2 linked regions of the Homo sapiens genome follow. Each later gene encodes a partner of the first gene's protein in a complex. Each region holds a gene or a part of one and is shown on either strand. Other genes may lie near its edges.

Region 1 (6,965 bases):
GCCCCGGTGGCACTGTGCCTACCTTACACTCACTTCCTGGCCTCTCCCAACCTCCAGGCCCTCCCCAGTCCAGACTCCTCCCCCTCCTGGGCTTAACCTTGACAGCAGCTCCAGCCTCTGAGCCCGTGGGTGGGGAAGAGTATTCCCCACCCACAGTGGGTGAACCGAGGCGAAGGAGCCTGCCTGAGTCCTGCTCCTTCCATCCTCACGACAGCACTCATGGTTATGGGATGGGTGAGGGGGCAGGAAGACCCTTACCAGAAGCAGAGGGCAGGGCAGGCTCTCCGCACTCCTGCCTGGGAGGACCTGGGCCTTGCCCCGAAGCCATTTTTCAGGTCTCAGTGGAGGACGGGATCAGCCTGCGGGGAAGGGCGAGAAAAAGCAGAGATGGGGGTGAGCACAGACCTGTGACTGGGGACCCCATACAGGTTGCCATGTCCACATAGGAGAGAGGATCCCCCATTCCCAGAAAGGCCCTTAGTCCTCTGGGACTTTGGCCAGGCCGGTCTCAAACTCCTGACCTCGTGAGTCTGCCTCGGCCATCCACAGTGCTGGGATTACAGGTGTGAGCCACCGTGCCTGGCCTCCTCTGGGACTTTTTATTCTTACTCCAGCATGGGTCCCAGTGAAGTCTGCTGGGAGGAAACAACTTACTGAACACTCCCTCTTTGAGGGAGACAGGGTAAGAAGGTGAGGCAGCCAAGGGCAGACTGAGGTATCTGCACCATCGAGGAGGGTGTGGCTGCAGCAGTGCCCGCTGGCTCTCAAGTTCATGCCACTCCTGGGGCAAGAGCCTGGGGGGTTTTTAGCTGTTCCTGGGGCCTCCTGCAGCCCACCCAGCACATGCTTATTGCAAGCGAGCCACTGCCCAGCCAATGGCCCATGAAGGCTGTCCTCAGAGGCCCTACTTCCCTCTGGCTGGCCAGAACACACCTGTTTTTTAACTCTGGGCTGTTAGCCGCAAACATTTCCTGAGAGCCTAAGATATACTCTCCCACTTAGGAGCACTCTGTGGGTGGTGAACACTGGAAACTCACATGAACCCAGCAGGGTGAGCGCCATCATACCCACTTTACAGGCAGGAAAAGTGAGGCACAAAGAGTTGAGTGCCCGAGGTCACATCGTTAGTCACGGAAAGTCAGGTTGTTTGTCTGAATCTCCGTGAGTCCATGTACTCAACACGCATGCAAGATTTCTTTTCCAGTTTGTGGACCTCAGAGTGTGTTCTTTCTCAGGGCAACTTTCCCTATTTACCTCCTGTCTGTGCCTTCCCCACTGCTGCCTTGCAGTGACCGGAGGGAGCCCTCAGGATCAGGGCCTTCTTTGAAGCCCCATAACCTGCCTCGTACTCCCACCACACACCTGGTCTTCTGTCCCCGGCCCCAATTTTCCTCTTTGCCTGGTCCTGACCGCAGCCCCAACCTGCTGTGACCCCTCATCAGGGCGAGTGTTTCCTGGATGTCAGCTGTTTCACTTTCAGTTTGCACCCCTCCCAGAGCCCCATTTCCCCAGGCAGCCTCCAGCCCTCAGAAGGAGAGCGCCCTCCTCCTATCCCAGAGGGAGGGGGTGTGCAGCCCCACCCTGGGCCAAGCACACAGCCCCACCCCCACCGCCCAGGGCCTGGGGACCTTCGCCCACCCTCCTTCCGCTAGGCCTGGGAGTGTTTTCGAAAGTGCCCCAAGAGCTCTCAAGAAGGGGTGGAGGAGGGCTGGACCACCTGTGCCCTCACCCAGCTCCCCACTCCTCCTCGATCTGCCGGACAGGGACAGGGTGAAGGCAGACCTTCCTCTCCTCCACCTCTAGGGGCAAGGCCTTGTTAAAACAGAACTTTGCAGCCGGGCATAGTGGCCCACGAGGTCAGAAGTTCAAGACCAGCTTGGCCAACATAATGAAACCCCATCTCTACTAAAAATACAAAAATTAGCTGGGCATGGTGGCGTGCGCCTGTAGTCCCAGCTACTCGGGAGGCTGAGGCAGGAGAATCGCTTGAACCTTGGAGGCGGAGGTTGCGGTCAGCCGAGATTGCGCCACTGCACTCCAGCCTGGGCAACAGAGCGAGACTCCATTTCAAAAAACAAAAAAAAAGAGTTTTGCTTGCCTCCCACCCCCCGTAGCTCCTTACATAAGATGGCCTTCCTTCTTCCCCAGTCTCCAGGACCCGGCACCCCCAGGACAGTAGGGCTGGAGGATGCTGACTGCACCTCCAACTCCCTCTACCAACACCCCAGGCTTCCGAGGGGAGCAGGTAGAGCCTCAGAACACCCACCAAGGCCAGCAACCTATGCTGACTCAGGCCTAGCTCTGCCTCCCCCATCCAAGTGGCCTAAATTCCCGGTGAGGGGAGCCACCCCCGACTTCCTGGGCTTGCTGGGCCCCGATGAATGTTGCCCAGGGATACATGCCTGGCCAGGCCCTGGACCCAGTCTAGGGATGTTGGGCAGCAGCAAGCGCTGAGAAAGTTCTCTCTCTGCCCTTGACCTTGGCTCTGACCTCCACTCCCATCTCCCAGACTGTTAAAGGACCCAGTTCTTACAGTTCTCCGGCATCCAGGGCTGGGCCAAGAGGGGAAGCTGTGAGGGGCAGCCAGAGGCAGGCATGGCAGGATCAGGTCCCCAGCCGGGGCGGCAGACCTGCCCAGGGAAGCCTTGAGCTTCCCCTTCCCCACCCGGCTCCCGGCAGGCTCCCTGCCCCACCCTGGGGCTGGGGCTGCTGAGATCTGGGAGGATGGACAAGACCCTTCCAGCTTACCTGCCGGGATCCTGGCCCAACCCGGGTGGCTCAGCAGGGTGGAGATGGAGGTCCCGAGGGGCTGGCGGCTGCTGCTCCCAGGGGCTGAGTGGGAGCCCAGTTTCCAGGAATGGGCGTCAGTGCATTCCCGGCATCTGGATGTAGCCTTTACTTGTCCCTGTGCAGCCCGAGGGACCCGCGAGACTCCAGTGATCATAGAGGTGCCAGCGGCACCCGGCTCCAATCAGCTCCCTCTAGAGGAAGTTGCTCTGTGGCCACCGGATGCAGACGCACAGGCCGACAGCCTGTAGGGTGATCTGGGTGGGCCAGGCCCAGGAGCATGTCCCGCCCACTTTCCCCACCCCACCTCCCAGGCAGGCAGGGCGGCTGTCAGTGGCCCACTGCTTTTCCCATCCCTGATTCTCAATCCTTGTCTTTGATCTTCTCCCCCACCTCTACATCAATCAATACCAATAAAAAACCCAGGGTGAGAAGTTTCTTAAGCACTGCTGCATGCCTGGCACTTTAGCAACTATTTGTCTCATTGGATCTTCTCAGCAACTCTTGTAAGTGAGTGCTGTTGACAATACCCATTCAGATGAACAGAGGCTCAGCTGGGTTAATCATCAGTTCTGGGCCAGGCGCGGTGGCTCACGCCTATAATCCCAGCACCTTGGGAGGCTGAGGCAGGCAGATCACGAGGTCAAGAGATCGAGACCATTCTGGCTAACATGGTGAAACCCCGTCTCTACTAAAAATACAAAAAATTAGCTGGGTGTGGTGGCGGGCGCCTGTAATCCCAGCTAGTTGGAAGGCTGAGGCAGGAGAATCCCTTGAACCTGGGAGGTGGAGGTTGCAGTAAACCAGGATTGCGCCATTGCACTCCAGCCCTGGTGACAGTGCAAGACTCCATCTCAAAAAAAATAAATAGTAATAATCAGTTCTGTAGTCGCATTGGGGAATACTAATACTAGATTGAGATTCAACCTGCAATTTAGACCTGTGCACCATGCACCTTGGTGGTCTCTGGATGTTTGAAATCCTGAAGGTGATAGTCAAGTAAACGGAGATTAAAACTCAATAGAGGCTGGGCCCAGTGGCTCACGCCTGTAATCCCAACACTTTGGAAGGCTGAGGTGGGAGGATTGCTTGAGCCCAGGAGTTCAAGACCAGCCTGGGCAACAAAGTGAGACCATGTCTCTACAAAAAAAAATTAGAAATTAGCTGGGTATGGTAGTGCACACCTGTGCATTTGGTGGTCCCAGCTACCTAGGAGGCTGAGGCAGGAGGATCACCTGAGCACAGGAAGTCGAGGCCACAGTGAGCCATGTTTGCACCACTGCATTCCGCCCTGGGCAACAGAGCAAGACCTTGTCTCAACAACAACAAAAAAGGCAGCCAGCTGCGGTGTGTCACGCCTAGAATCCCATCCCAGCCATTTGGGAGGCCAAGGCAAGAGGATCGCTTGAGGCCAGGTGCAGGAGTTCCAGGCCAGCCTGGGCAACAGCAATACCCTGCTTATACCAAAAAAAAAAAAAAAAAAAAAAAAAATTAGCAAGGCATGGTGTTGTATGCCTGTGGTCTTAGCTACTGGGGAGGCTGAGGTGGGAGGATTGCTTGAGCCCAGGAGGTCGAGGCTGCAGTAAGCTATGATTGCACCAGGGCAACAGAGGGAGAGTCTGTCTCTAGAAAAAAAAAAAAAAAAAAAAAAAAGGCCGGGCACGGTGGCTCACGCCTGTAATCCCATCCCAGCACTTTGGGAGCCCGAGGCAGGCAGATCACCTGAGGTCAGGAGTTCAAGACCAGCTTGCCTAACATGGCGAAACCCCGTCTCTTTTAAAAATACACAAAAGGGAGGCCAAGGCAGGTGGATCACCTGAGGTCAGGAGATTGAGACCATCCTGGCTAACATGGTGAAACCCCGTCTCTACTAAAAATACAAAAAAATTAGCCGGGCATGGTGGCAGGCGCCTGTAGTCCCAGCTACATGGGAGGCTGAGGCAGGAGAATGGCGTGAACTCAGGAGGCAGAGCTTGCAGTGAGCCGAGATCACGCCACTGCACTCCAGCCTGGGTGACAGAATGAGACTCCGTCTCAAAAAAAAAAAAAAAAAATTGGTCGGGCACGGTGGCTCACGCCTGTAATCCCAGCACTTTGGGAGGCCGAGGCTGGCTGATCACCTGAGGTTGGAAGTTCGAGACCAGCCTGACCAACGTGGAGAAACTCCACCCCTATTAAAAATACAAAATTAGCCAGGCGTGGTGGCGCATGCCTGTAATCCCAGCTACTCTGGAGGCTGAGGCAGGAGAATTGCTTGAACCCGGGAGGCAGAGTTGTGGTAAGCTGCGATTGCGCCATTGCACTCCAGCCTGGTCAACAAGAGCGAAACTCCATCTCAAAAAATAATAATAATAATAAATAAATAAAATAAAGCCGGTTGTGGTGGCGTGCGCCTATAATCCCAGCTACTTGGGAGGTTGAGGCAGGAGAATTGCTGAACCCAGGAGGCGGAGGTTGCAGTGAGCTGAGATTGTACCACTGCACTCCAGCCTGGGTGACAAGAGTGAAACCCCATCTCAAAAAAATAAAATAAAAATAGGGCCGGGCACGGTGGCTCATGCCTGTAATCCCAGCACTTTGGGAAGCCGAGGTAGGTGGATCACAAGGTCAAGAGGTCGAGACCATCCTGGCCAACATGGTGAAACCCTGTCTCTACTAAAAATACAAAAATTAGCCGGGCGTGATGGCGGGTACCTGTAGTCCCAGCTACTCAGGAGGCTGAGGCAGGAGAATCGCTTGAAGCCAGGAGGCGGAGGTTGCAGTGAGCCAAGATTGTGCCACTGCACTCCTGCCTGGCGACAGAGCTAGACTCCATCTCAAGAAATTAAAAATAAAAATAAAAACAAGGCCGGGCCCGGTGGCTCTCGCCTGTAATCCCAGCACTTTGGGAGGCCGAGGCGGGTGGATCACGAGGTCAGGAGATCGAGACCATCCTGGCTAACACGGTGAAACCCCATCTCTACTAAAAATACAAAAAATTAGCTGGGCGCCGTAGCAAGCGCCTATAGTTCCAGCTGCTTGGGAGGCTGAGGCAGGAGAATGGCGTGAACCCAGGAGGCAGAGCTTGCAGTGAGCCGAGATAGCCCACTGCACTCCAGCCTGGGCGACAGAGCGAGACTCTGTCTCAAAAAAATAAATAAATAAAAATAAAAACAAATAAATAAATAGACTTAGTGGGGTCTGTGCTACCACCTGGACACAAAACCTGGATGCTAAGAGGGAAGACAGATACTGTCTGGCTGCTGGGAGTGTTCTTGAGGACAGAACAAACCCAGGAAGGACAGAGGTGTGTGCAGTCCTCAATAGCCCCTGCCCTCAGGGTTCAGTTCCCTCCCTGCCTCTCCCTGTTTGCTCCCTGCCAAGCTTCCTGGGGCTCTCACATCTTTTCCTCCAAGTCTCCACCCCCTTTCCCCCAAAATCCCTGCCTGCCCCCCACACCTCCTTCCCTGCTTCATCAAACCCCTGCCCCCTCTACCTCCAACTAATCTCCCCCAACCTCCCATCCTCCCCAGTCTTTGCTTCCCAGAATTCTGGGAAGTTTCCAACTGGAGGTTTTAATTTGAAAACTCTTCCTGTTCTTAAGCAGTTGGTCCTGGGGTGGCTGTTACAGGATCTGAATTGGGGACCTTCTCAGGATGGAGGCCCCAGCTCCGAAGCCCTGATCATGAATTTCAGGCTGCTCCTCCATGTTCCGCCACCAGGGTGCCATTTCCCTGATGATGAGCCAAGAGGGACATGTGAGGAGGAGGGGGCCGGGACCATCTGCCTTGCCGCCCCACCCCTTCTCTGTGGCCATACCCAGGGGCTTCTCAAAACGGTCACAGCAGCCTCCCTTAAAGCTGGGCATGGGGCGTATGGTGACCTACACCTGCAAGAGCAAGAAGGCCTGGCGGAGAGGTGAAGTCAGTTCTGCCCATAGCAAGCCAGGAGGTGTTGGGCAACCTGCCTGAGAAGGAGGGGAAGGAGCCAGCAGGGGACGCCTCTGGGAAAACAGGGGCCTCAGACAGGTGAGGGGCTGGAATTGGGGGGTACCCAGGTTGGCAAGGCCTGGGACAGAGGTACTGAGAAGAGGCCTGGACATGAGATGGGGGAAGGGCATGGGCCTGAGATGGGGGACCCATGCTGGGGAGGGTCTGGGGAGGGAGGCCTTGGGTGGGTAAAGGTCTGGAACAGGGCAC
Region 2 (7,034 bases), 2.9 Mb from region 1:
AATGTGTTACGCTGGGTTTCGGCGGAGGCTGGGTGTAAACTGATAATGTTTATCTCTTGTTATTCCTGTTAATGGTTTACAAACAGGCTCTGGCCTTCGTATCCCATGTACTGGCTCTGGCAGCTCACATGACCTCTTGTTTATGAACACACAAGTCTCATTCTTGAACCTAATACTGAGAATGCTTAGTTGTTTTTTTTTTTTTTTTTTCAGCCTTATATGAGTGTTGTTGTTGTTGTTTTGAGATGGAGTCTCCCTCTGTCGCCCAGGCTTGAGTGCAATGGCGTGATCTCTGTTCACTGCTACCTCCACCTCCCGGATTCAAGCGATTATCCTACCTCAGCCTCCCAAGTAACTGGGATTACAGGCATGCGCCATTATGCCCAGCTAATTTTTTTTATTTTTAGTAGAGATGGGGTTTCACCAGGTTGGCCAGGCTCTTCTCCAACTCCTGACCTCAGATGATCCACCCGCCTCCGCCTCCCAAAGTGCTGGGATTACAGGCGTGAGCCACCACTCCCAGCCACCTTATATGAGTTTTAAATAAACTGCATTTGGAAAAGAAAATAGGCCGGACGCCTGTAATCCCAGTACTTTGGGAGGCCAAGGCGGGTGGATCACCTGAGGTCGGGAGTTTGAGACCAGCCTGTCCAACATGGTGAAACCCCGTCTCTACTAAAAATACAAAAAATTAGCTGGGCGCGGTGGTGCGCCTGTAATCCCAGCTACTTGAGAGGCTGAGGCAGGAGAATTGCTTGAACCCAGGAGGCGGAGGTTGCAGTGAGCCAGGATCGCACCACTGCTCCAACCTGGGCGATACCGAGACTCCGTCTCAAAAAAAAAAAAGTTCCAATAACCCACTGAGCCACCACAGAAAGCTATGAGATATTTATTTAGTAGATAGGTAAACTTTATTTCGCAAGCCCAAGGGGATAATTTACTTTTCATCCCCCTCTCTTTAAAAACAGAGAACCTCCAACAAATGGTATATAAAGGAAAACAAAGCAAACAAAAGAGGGAAACTTTGCAATTTATTAACTCAAGCATGAAAATACAGAAAATAAAGAGGGCTCAACATACTTGGAAAAGTAAGTCTGAACTTACTGCATTAAAACATGGTGTTGCGCTAATCCTGCCGGGCGCAGTGGCTCATGCCTGTAATCCCAGCACTTTGGGAGGTCGAGGCGGGCGGATCACGAGGTCAGGAGATCAAGACCATCCCGGCTAACACGGTGAAACCCCATCTCTACTAAAAATACAAACAATTAGCCGGGCGTGGTGGCAGGCACCTGTAGTCCCGGTACTCGGGAGGCTGAGGCGGGAGAATGGCGTGAACCCAGGAGGCGGAGCTTGCAGTTAGCTAAGATCACGCCACTGCACTCCAGCCTGGGCGACAGAGCGAGACTCAGTCTCAAAAAACAAAAAACAAACAAACAACAACAACAAAACATAGTGTTGCACTAATCCAATGAATTGTCAGGCAAATGAGGCATGAAACATTGCCAAAATACAAAGTCAGTAAAATATCCATATTACTCTTTGTCATTATATGTTTTATTTTATTGGGATCTGGTAAAGAATAGATTATTCCCAAATCTACATTACTAGCAAAATAAGTGAAATTATTTTACAAAGAATTTATTATTCTGGTAAATTGTTAATAGTGGCAGGTCAAAAGCAACTGAAACTCCAACAAAAGATACACATGTGCCTCATTTATAAGAAAGCATTAATAGGCCGGGCTCGGTGGCTCACGCCTATAATCCCAGCACTTTGGGAGGCCGAGGCAGGTGGATCACCTGAGGTCAGGAGTTCGAGACCAGCCTGATCAACATGGTGAAACCCCGTCTCTACTAAAAATACAAAAATTAGCTGGGCGTGGTGGCAGGTTCCTGTAATCCCAGCTACTCGGGAGGCTGAGGTAGGAGAATCACTTGAACCCGGGACGTGGAGTGTGCAGTGAGCCGAGATAGCGCCACTGCACTCCAGCCTGGACGACAGAGCAAGACTCTAAAAAAAAAAAAAAAAAAAAAAGCAGTGGCTGGGCACGGTGGCTCACGCCTGTAATCCCAGCACATTGGGAGGCTGAGGAGGGCAGATCACAAGGTCAGGAGATCGAGACCATCCTGGCTAACACGGTGAAACCCCGTCTCTACTAAAAATATTTTAAAAAATTAGCCAGGCATGGTGGCGGGCGCCTGTAGTCCCAGCTACTCAGGAGGCTGAGGCAGGAGAATGGCATGAACCCAGGAGGCAGAGATTGCAGTGAGCCGAGATCGCGCCATTGCACTCCAGCCTGGGCGACAGAGCAAGACTCCATCTCCAAAAAAAAAAAAAAAACCCACACAAAAAATATTTTTTGTTTATATGTGAAACAGACAAGTTCTAGATTCAGATCATTATAACTGGATTTTTTGCCTACATGAATATCCAGAGGGACAGTCAACATACAGAATGTAGGACAATTTTTTTGTGGAGGGCAGGACCTTTACAGGCATTGGAGGAGGTCTGACATACCTGACTCTACCTATTAAATTTGGGTTTTTTTTGGTTTTGTTTGTTTGTTTTGAGATGGAGTCTCGCTCTGTCGCTCAGGCTGGAGTGCAGTGGTATAATCTCGGGTCACTGCAACCTCCACCTCCTAGGTTCAAGCGATTCTCCTGCCTTAGCCTCCCAAGTAGCTGGGATTATAGGCCCGTGACACCACGCCCGGCTAATTTTTGTATTTTTAGTAGAGACAGGGGTTTCACCGTGTTGGCCAGGCTGGTCTTGAACTCCTAACCTCAAGTGATCCGCCCACCTCAGCCTCCCAAAGTGCTGGGATTACAGGCATGAGCCACTGCACTTGGCCTCTATATTTGAATATAACCTCACATTAATGTAACTGTACAATTGCACCCCAAAATTTTGAACAATGCCCCCTAGAGACTAGTACACCCTAGTTGAAGCCTACTTATCAAATATCCCATACTGTGAAATTTTTGTTCACTGTTGTAACCTTGCATCTAGTTTGATGCCTGACACATAGTAAGAATTTAATAAATATTTCCCAATGGACACAAGAGAGTTCCTTTTACTTACATGGCATTTTTCATATTCCTTATGATAATGATTCACATTTGTTTTTCCAGTCCTGACCTCTCTTCTGAGCTCCAAATTCATATTGGCAAATGCCCACTTAACATCTTTACTTGAATGACTTTCACATACCTCAAACACTAAGTATATCCAAAATTGAACTCATCATTTCCTGCCATTGCATCCCTCCCCCAGATACAACCCAGTACCAAACAAGGCAAAATGTTAATTCCGTGCTGGTGCTCTCTGGTTTAGTAACTGCCACTATGACCCACTTACTTAAGGAATCATCAAAACCCTGGCATTATCCATGATTATTTTCTACTTATCATCCCATTTTCTAATCAATCAATTCTAGTTCCTAAATCTCAAATTTATCTCCTTTCCATCTCCAGTGCTTCTGTCCTAGTGGATTATTGAATTACTACAGTGGTCTCTTGCCTGCTTCCAAACCACCTCCATCCAGTAGCCAAAGTGATCTTTTAAAACAGAAATCCCATCAGGTCATCCCTATGTTTAAATTCCTTAAAGAGTTTCTCACTTTTTTTTTAGGACAAAATCTAAAGCCCTGCAGGATTTGGCCCCTGCCTATGTATCTTTTCTTATTTTGTGCCACTTACTCAGTACTCTGCAATCATGCTGGCTTTTTTTTTTTTTTTTTTTGGCTTACTTTTTTTTTTAATTAATTTTTATTAAATGAATCCAGGCACATCATTTAAAAACCAATCATTGTTAAGCAGTTTATTTTTTGAAAAAGTTTATGGCACAGTCTTGTTTTCCAGGATCCCTGCTTTCATCTCTGTTGACTTACTCCTTTCTTTTGGTAGAGCCCTTCCCTTCTCCACTAGCTTCCTGATGCAAGGGAGGTTAATTTTTTGAGATGTTGCAGGAAAAGGGGGTTTATTCTAGTCTTACTTGTTTGTTAGTGTGAGTAGGTGTACAGTCTAGATTGGAAAACATTTTCTCTCAGGATTTTGAAAGCTCTGCTGTCTTCTAACTTCCAATAGTGCCATCAAGTTTGTTCTTAATTGATTTTTTTCAATCTGGAAGATTTTAGGATCTACTGTTTATCATTGATGAATTCCAAGATGTGTGTGTGTATATTGGTTTAGGTCTTTTCCATTTGTTGTTCTGGGCCTTTTCATCCTGGAGACATATTTTGTTCTTTTGTTCTGCGATGTTTTCTTGCATTTGTTTGTTTCTTTTCTTTTCTTAGGGACAGGGTCTTACTCTGTCACCCAGGCTAGAGTGCAGTGGCATGGTCATAGCTCACTGCGGCCTGGAACTCCTGGGCTCAAGTATCCTCCTGCCTCAGCCTCCTGAGTAGCTGGACTACAGGAGCAGAGCACCATGTCCAGCTAATTAAAAAAAAAAAATTTTTGTAGAGATGGGGGTCTACCTATCTTGGCCAGGCTGGTCTTGAACTTCTGGGCTCAAGCGATCCTCCTGCCTTGACCTCTCGAAGTGCTGGCATTACAGGCGTAAGCCATTGCACCTGGCCTGGTTAATTTTTAAAATTTTTTGTAGAGATGGGGTTCTCCAACTTCTGGGCTGAAGCAATCTTCCCTCCTCAGCCTCCCAAATGCTGGGATTAAAGACATGAGCCATCACACCTGGCCACATTTGTTTCTTTGATAATTTCTTCTCTAAAGCTTTTGCTAATTTTTCTTTTTTCTTTTTTTTTTCTGGAATTCTTATTATTCAGATATTGTAACTTCTAGATACTCTAATTTATCTTTTTTATTGTCCATATTTGTCTTCTGTGACAATTGAGTTTTTCATTACCTTCAAGGGTGATTTTCAATCACATAAAAGTACCTTTCAGAAAAGTTAATCTCCCTAAGCTGTTAAAAGAGGCATAAAGAGAAAATTATAACATTTCAGCTGATACATTTTATTGTTTTAGTTAAAAGGCTAGCAAATTTTAGCAATCAATTGAAAAGGGGCTTTTGCCACTTAACTAAAGACAAATCTTTTCAAACCACAGACATTTCAAATATTTTATTTCTTCTTTATATACCTGAATTGTCTGACTGACAAACCTTCTCAAGTACTTAAGCATCTATTGTAGACCTGATAATGTTATAAATATGCATGATTATTGATTCTCTTATAAACGAACTTCTCTTGGAAATTACAAGTATAGATTTGATTTTATTTGGCCTTTATACACCCAACTATTTCATCAAAACTAAGGAGAATTTCAGTTATGTCATTAATGTTCCATTACGATTGGAACCTATAATGGCTACCTCATTTGGTTGGATTCAACTAATTTATTTATTGCTTTTCAAAATAGGCCACAATTCTTAGAGACATTAACATAAAATTTTATTAAATTTTAGATCTCTCCTGACTTTTTTATTATGAAAAATTTCAAACATAAAAAGTTGAGGGTATAGTATTTCAACAAGTATACCCATTACTTAGATGCAATAATCACCAACATTTTGCTGTGTGTGTACATTCCAAGATGTGTGTGTATATATTGGTTTAGGTCTTTTCCATTCGTCATGCTGGGCCTTTTCATCCTGGAGACATATGTCCTTTTGTTCTGGGATGTTTTTTTGCATTTCTTTGTTTCTTTTCTTTTTCTTTTTCTTTTTTTTTAGAGACAGGGTCTTACTCTGTCAACCAGGCTGGAGTGCACTGGCATGATCATAGCTCACTGCAGTGAGCTCCCAATATTTGCTTTATTTCTATGGCTATTTATTATGAAAAATTTCAAATATAAAGGAAGTTTAAGACAAATACAGCCAACACTAGTATATCCACTACTTATAATAGATTAAACAGTTGTTAACATTTTCTCATATTTTCTTTATTTTTATATTTATCTATTTTGCTGAACTATTTGAAAGTAAGTGGCGGACAATATGACATCTCACTTCAGAATTGCATTTGGCTTTCTTATCTCTTTAGCCTCTTTTCTTTTCTTTTTTTTTTTTTTTCCTGAGACAGAGTCTTGTTCTGTCACCCAGGCTGGAGTGCAGTGGAGTGCAGAGCTCACCGCAATCTCTGCCTCCCAGGTTCATGCCATTCTCCTGCCTCAGCCTCCCGAGAAGCTGAGACTACAGGTGCCTGCCACCACGCCTGGCTAATTTTTTTTTTTTGTATTTTTTGGTAGAGACAGGTTTCATCATGTTAGCCAGGATGGTCTCGATCTGCTGACCTCGTGATCCACCCGCCTCGGCCTCCCAAAATGCTGGGATTACAGGCGTGAACCACCGTGCCCGGCCTAGCCTCTTTTCATGTAGAGCAATGCCCTTCCCCATCTGCCTACCATTTTGTTCCCCCATGACACTGATTTCTTAAGGACATCAGAGCAGTTTTCTTGTAGAATCTTCTCATGACTTTTCCTGAATTATAACAATCTCCAAGGTCATTCTCTTTTGGAGCACTTTTTTTGTCTTTATCTTTCACAATGTATATATTTTTTACAGATTTCTAATTATAGTATTTGTAATTTCCAGCTGCTCTTGTTTATTCTTATAGTGTTTCTTCTTTTAGCATCCTGTTCTTGTTTCATGGATATCATATTTCTCTGATGATATAATTTCTTTGAAGTATTTTTATGCTCCCTGCATTGTCTCAGTTTTCTGTGATTCTTTTCCCCCCTGATTCCTCCATGCTTGAGGTTTAGAATTTTTTTTATGTTACAGATTTTCCTCTAGTATCCGATGATTTTTGTACATTTATATTTTAAGAATAAAGTCCTAAAAGCTAATTGGAAATTCTAAGTATATGCTTGAGTCTTATCAATTGAAAGAATTCACTGGAGGCTTTTTCTATGGGAGCCACCAATATGTCAGGTTTTTTCCCCTAAGAAGTACCTTTTTTTTTTTTTCCTGCTAGAGAGTAGAACCTGGTTATGAAGTTCTACATCTATGCAGGAGAAGAGGCCTGGGTGTTTTCTTTTCAGTAATATGTCTGACTCTCACTCTGATCTATGCCAA

What was found. Proteins that work in one complex are often made in the same cells at the same time.
Region 2: the proteins of BAK1 (region 1) and PXT1 are in contact, whole or in part, in a crystal structure (PDB 8GSV), measured with the Homo sapiens proteins. Residues at the interface, in NP_001179.1 of Homo sapiens: Ile81, Gly82, Asp84, Ile85, Asn86, Arg88, Tyr89, Glu92, Phe93, Met96, Leu97, His99, Leu100, Tyr110, Lys113, Ile114, Ser117, Leu118, Glu120, Ser121, Asn124, Trp125, Gly126, Arg127, Val129, Ala130, Phe134, Asn182; in NP_694535.2 of Homo sapiens: Ile78, Ile79, His80, Lys81, Leu82, Ala83, Met84, Gln85, Leu86, Arg87, His88, Ile89, Gly90, Asp91, Asn92, Ile93, Asp94, Arg96, Met97.

What each region holds. Positions count from the first base shown.
Region 1 is NC_000006.12:33,577,277-33,584,241, forward strand, and holds the start of BAK1 (bcl-2 homologous antagonist/killer), read right to left. Parts: upstream 3,001-6,965; 5' UTR 2,749-3,000; intron 633-2,748; exon of another isoform or gene 522-632; intron 360-521; 5' UTR 329-359; coding exon 259-328; intron 41-258; exon of another isoform or gene 23-40; intron 1-22. UniProt on the Homo sapiens protein: Plays a role in the mitochondrial apoptotic process. Upon arrival of cell death signals, promotes mitochondrial outer membrane (MOM) permeabilization by oligomerizing to form pores within the MOM.
Region 2 is NC_000006.12:36,432,821-36,439,854, reverse strand, and holds part of PXT1 (peroxisomal testis-specific protein 1), read left to right. Parts: intron 1-968; 5' UTR 969-1,088; intron 1,089-7,034.